Regions from separate parts of the Homo sapiens genome. Here region 2 is linked to region 1. Evidence: fine-mapped expression QTL. A gene starts in region 1. The other region holds a variant in brackets. All regions are shown on one strand. Distances are from middle to middle. Region 1 holds the start of SCRG1 (stimulator of chondrogenesis 1). Region 2 has its middle 33 kb from the start of SCRG1.

Evidence for each region. PIP is the estimated chance that this variant, and not a neighbour inherited with it, causes the effect.
Region 2: its variant is the best candidate, but not a certain one, in a credible set for the expression of SCRG1 in spinal cord (GTEx, PIP 0.57).

Annotation. Positions count from the first base shown.
Region 1 is chr4:173,398,040-173,400,955 of GRCh38, forward strand. It overlaps SCRG1 (stimulator of chondrogenesis 1), which reads right to left and starts at 1,077. Exons shown (of 3, transcript NM_007281.4): 1 at 1,029-1,077. All of the region lies in intron 1 of LOC112268474 (a long non-coding RNA gene), which reads left to right.
Region 2 is chr4:173,430,820-173,433,735 of GRCh38, forward strand. It overlaps a transcript of SCRG1 not described here and the pseudogene LOC124900814. Among named protein-coding and RNA genes, the nearest start is that of SCRG1, 33 kb to the left of the region's middle. The variant T/A (reference allele first, on the strand shown) is at 1,698.

The sequences.
Region 1 (2,916 bases):
AAATCACTGTTTTTTTAAAGTTCTCTTTTTTTCTTATTAGCTGCCTTAGAAGACGTTTTTGTTAGAATGACTGAGTCCTTAGAAAATGTTTTTGTTAGAATGACTGAGTCCCAAAGTGAAATTTCCCAAAGTATGTGTTAAAGAACAGAAGCAGTATTAAAAAGTGAATAAGCTGCTTAAAGATCCTTAAAACAGACATATCATCTTAAATATCTAAGATACCTTCATCCATAGAAAAACAAAATCCACATCCTCCCTAAAAGTGATCAGGCTTTTAGAGCATGCCAGAAGATGATATTAATATTCAGTCTTGCATCATTCTCCTTCTTTTCCTGGACACAGTAAATCATCATCACTGGAGAAAAGGACCAGCATTTGGGAGAGCTTTTCATAGCCTGTGTAATTAAGTTAAGGAATTTTAAAGAGGAATTTTTCTAAGTCTCAGAGGGAAAAAGTGTTCTCTTTATATTAGCAGTACAGACACTGTTGTGTTCCAAGAATGGACACCAAGGATGAATTCAATGAATTCCCTCTTTGTATCACACATTTGTACCAGGTTCTTTTCAGAAATCAGGATTTTTAAAAGCAAAAAACATTTTCTTTCTTAGATGTTGCAGTTAACTTCATGTAGTGTAGGTAATATAGCTGCTGCATTTAAAACAATCCTATATACTTTATCATCCTCACATAGTTCTGAGGACTGGGATAAGTCCTGTTGTGTGGGACAACATTCAGAGTAAATTTGGGCATTAAATAAATGATAGTGAAGAATCTGCCTCTTTTTAAACCTGTAATGAAATGACTTTCCTAGTCAAGAAATATACATTTTCTGTTCTTTTTTAATCTGATTATTTGCCTTTCTACTAGGAAGCATCATATTTTTCAAAGTGCCTGCATCATCTCCTCAGAGGATCTCTGTCTTTCTCTTCTGACTCAACACATACATACATTTCTGCTCTAATCTACAGTAATACTTTGGAGTAGAACAACTGACATAAGATGTTTTTTATAGAGAAAAAATTACATACCTTTTTCTTCTTTCCTTTTGGTCTTGGCAGAGGATGCTTCTTAAATGCTCACACTCACTGGGTGAGTTTGGGCAAAAGGAGAAGAGAGGAGGTGCTGGAAGGAGCTTCTTTACAAATGAACCTTTGTCTGCCTTGTCTCTGGCCTGGGATCGACAGACTCGCTGCTCCAGCCAGGACTGTGGGGAGGAGGGGAGTGGAAGGAGACAAGGCTGCAAGGACTGCCTCCTTTGGAAGTGTTCAGTTTGTTCCAAACCAGGCGAGAACGAATAGAACAGCTTCTTTACAGAGGGAAATAACTAGTCTATACAAGAACCTCAGGGAGGCAGACTCTGGTAGCAATAAAACATAAAACCTGAGGGATTTTAAAAGAACACAGAGTGATTTTTCCCTTAAGAAAAGTGTGTGTGTGTGTGTGTGTGTGTGTTTGTGTGTCTGTGTGTGAGAGAGAGAGAGAGAGAGAAGAGGAAAGTGGGGAATGGCTAGCTGCGCACCTCTTCCCCTTTCACAGTTTTCCTAGCCATCTAGATCTGTTACAAAATCCTGGTAGAAGATACGTTCCAATTCACCTTCCATTTCTCACCCAAAGACTCATTAGTAGTCAATGGAAAGCTAAAATGATGACTAAAAAGAAATGTATTCTGTGCCTTAGAAATAAAAGCACAAAAGAAATTTTATTCTGTTTTCAGCAAACTATACTGGAATTCTAGCATCTGTTAACTGTTGTTTAGGTTTTTAAAAAATTCGATTAGGAGTAGTGTTTTGGGAATTAGAGATATTATATTGTAATGGAGTTGGAATTATCTAGACAGACAATTGAGGCAAGGGCATTCCAGGTTGAATTACAAAGGCATGAAGGTGAAAAAGAGGGTGACAACTTCGGAGATTATAGGTGGTTTCATTTGGCTAAAACCAAAGGTGGTAGGAGATGAAATTTGAGAGACAAGAAGCAGCAAATTGATGAATTACCTCATATGCCATGCTAAAAAAATTGTTTTTATCGTGAAGATGAATGGAAAGATGATGAAAACATATTAAAAAGGATGAAAAGCCTGACTGCAGTGTGAAAGAAGGATGGTTTCCTGGGAGGAAAGGAGACTAAAGACAGAAAATACCGGCTTTTGCTGTAGTCCAGAAGGGAAGATAGGAAGGAAAACTGAAAAGACCTGATGACCACTTAAGTGTTTATGTTTAGCATAGAGATAGGAAATTTTATTAACTTTCAAAGGCTTGGGCCTTTGGACGATGATACTGTTAATCATCTAGAAAAAGGATATAAAAGGAATAACTGTTATTCATCTAGGAAAAAGAATACAAAAGTTTTGGCTGGAGGAGGAGTGGGAAAATAGAAATGAGTTAGTTGGTGAACGTTGAGTTTAAGGAACCCTAAATACAGTTGAGAATGTTTAGTAGGCAGTTGGTTAAATAGACCTAGAGCTTAGGAAAAAGCCTGGTCTAGAGAATTAGTTCATCAACCAATCAACTCAATATCAAATAATCTCAACTAAATAACTAATGCAGGTATTCAACTAAATGATAGCCGAAGTCATGGTTGTACCACTAAGAAGTTACTGTGCTCTTACTGTGTGCCAGGCATTTCATACGTCTGAACTCGTTCACTCTCCTTCCAACCCTATGAAGTAGGTACTATTATTAGTCCCATTTTATAAACGAGGGGAACATCAGAGATGTCAGGTAACCTGCCCCAAATCACACACACAGCCAGAAAATGGCGAGACCCTGGCAGTGTGTTTCTAGTGTCTTTGTTTCCCACCATTATGCTGTACTGCCCCTTAGAATAGATTATAAAGTTCATGATACGACTGAGAGCAGAATTATTCAAGGAATGGGCAGAGAACTGGGAAGGAAACTGAGAAGAGGTAGCCAAAGA
Region 2 (2,916 bases), 33 kb after region 1:
AAAAAAAAAAAAGAGAGAGAGAGAGGAGAGAAAATACAGGGAAAAACAATCTATAGTCATCAGAAAAAACAGCCACTATAATTAGATCCTCATTTAGAAAGAGACTAGAAAATAGTATGTTTACAAAGGTGAAAATAATAGACAGTGGGGACTCCAAAAGGGCAAGATTTGAAAAACTTCCTAAACTACCTAGTGGGTACAATGTTCATGATTTGGATCATGGGTTCAGTAGAAGCCCAAACCCCAGCATGATGCAGTACCACCATGTGACAAACTTGCACGGGTACCACTGGAATCTAAAATAATTTTTAAAAAGAAAAGAAGTATGTTTAAAATTGTTAAAGAGAAAAGGCAAACAGAGTTCTGCTGATGGGCAAAGGGGTACTGCATGTTATTTGGGGGACCACTTCCTGTGGCATAGGCTGGGGTTCAAGCAGGGGAACTGAGCATGGGAGTGGGCAGGGCTCCTGGCCTTTGACTGTGGACCAGCGGGCAAAGGGAAGTTTCAGTCTGTACTCCAGCTGAAAGTGAGTTTGGAAAGCAGACTGATTAATTCCAAAAGGGTAGAAACAGCAAGAACCCAATGAAAGTGAAGCATGACAAACCCAATGAATTTAGAAGGTGGAAGATGTGGTGTGTACTCTAAGGCAAAAATACACAAATATAAGTACCTGTTTATAAGTCACCTTTAGAGAAGTCTGTGATTGGAAGCTTGCTGGGGCAATAGTCAGAGGTATTGCTTTGCCTGTAAAGTGAAGCCAGATCCAATAAAAGAGACTATGCTGGGGCATTAATAGCAAATTTCAATGCCTTGAACCATAGATATTTAACTAGAGTTGGTTTCTCTCATCCCTGCCCCAGGAATGTCTGCCCTTTGTTATGTGAGTATAAGAGGCAAAACTTCCAGGGTCTTCTGTCTGATCATCTTCCCAATGAATGGGACAGAAAGTTTCTTAGCACTAGAATTGGGCCTTGATGTTTTATCATAGTATGAATTAGTGTCATGCCAGGTCTGTAGGTAATACATCACCATGCAAGGAGGTGTGTTGAAGACATGTGATGGTTACTTTCATCTACATTCAACTGTTTGGAACTTTTTGGTACCTGTTTTTTGATAAGGAATGGAATAGTCAATTAAATAAATAAAATCAATTCAAACTGTTTGCTTAAGAAACTTCCAGATTTCCAGATAGGAATCACTTGTCTTCACGGACAAAATCCAACTTAGAGGTAAAAGCCAGATTAGCATAACTTGATGAGGATCCATATAGTGGTTGCACATTGTGATGTTGTCAAATGAAGCATTCTAGTTGAGTAGGAAGAATTTAGAGCCAGTATCATGGGATCTGGAAAATCAGCCAGCAGTAATTTTTCCCTCCCTCCCTCCCTCTTTCTATCTACTTTACAGGTCCTTCTTTCCTTTCTTCCTTCTTTCCTTCCTTCCTTATTCCCTTTCTTTCTTCCTTCCTTCCTTCCTCCCCCCCTCCCTCCCTCCTTCCCTTCCTTCCTTCCTTCCTTCCTCTTTCATGTTTCCTGACATCTATAAAAGGGAGATTCCTCTTCCTCTTCCTCCCCTTACTCCTCCTTCTCCTCCCTCTCCTCCCTTCCTTCTCCTCCTTCTTCCTCCTCTCCTGTCTCTCCCCACTCCCTCCATCCCGGTCATTCCTTTTCTCTCAGTATCTGTCTTTGTGGATAAC[T/A]CTTTCTACCCACTTTCTACCCATTCGCCGGTATCTGCTGAATGCTGGCCTCAGCCCATGTGTCTACATGACCTTCCAGCCCAGCTCCCCAGAGTTTACCGTGTGCCACACTCTAGGTTTCGGTTCTGTCAGGTGCCTCCTCCTGTCTGAGGCAGGCATGGAGGGAGTGGAAACTAGTCATAGTCCTAAAATGTATAGAAAGGGAGAGAGTAGAGTTTCTTTTTACCTTCTTGAGTAGAAATACAGCCACTCTTTGCTCTGCAGGATAATTTTCAAGCTACCCTATATGTTTAAGGCAGCTGGGCATCTCAGAGTGCTGTGTGATTTATTTGTACAGATTCACGTAACACTACCCTGTTCTCTTAGATTTGGTTGAAGCTGGTGGTCTTTGTTATAGCTTGTGGTTCATGATTTATCTGAGGATTACATGAGGAATTTTTTCTCTAATGGTGTGGTAAAGGGCAGAGGAGGATCTCCCTTTTACAGATATCAGAAAGCATGAAAAAAATAGAATTGGATTTAATGCTTTGCAGATATTCTGTTTTTCTTCCCAATTATTTGATTTCACCTATATACATATTCTTTTCTCTTTTTCCTAGCTTTAGAAGCAAACCAACAAAAGCAGTTTGGACTTTAGTAACTTTTTTTTACAGCAGCATTTAGAACAGTTTGCATGTTCTGAGGAATATTATATGTGTGTTGGGGGGAAAGGAATTCACACTGAATAAATTTTAGAAATAATTAAACAAAATAAAGCAAGTTCCTTTACTGCAAGACTTCTCTGATCCTTTAATATACTAATAGACTTTGTGATACTCCAAATTGTAAAGATAGTTCTCCCAAACTTATTTGACCTTCCAAAAAACATAGTCATGAAAACAGAAGCTTTTAAGCTTGTTGTGTTTACCAATGCAAGTTCTGCTGCTCTTCTGACCCAAGAGATTGTCTGATCCTGTGCTGGATTAATCTCAGTGACATAGCCCGCCCTGTACACTCTGCTGTGTGATGCAGGGGCCAAGACTCTGAAAAGTGCATTTCGCTCTGGTCTGTGAGCTTCCTCTTAGGATGCCCTATAGGGACTCTGGACTGCAGGAGGAGGGATGGGGATTTCCCTTCTTTCTGTTTGCTTGCTGTTTCTAGGTGTCACCCTATCAGTGGCCTTTCTCTGGGCAGCACTAGTCATCTTCTGTCTTCAGCTTCTTTCCTTGCTCTTAGAACC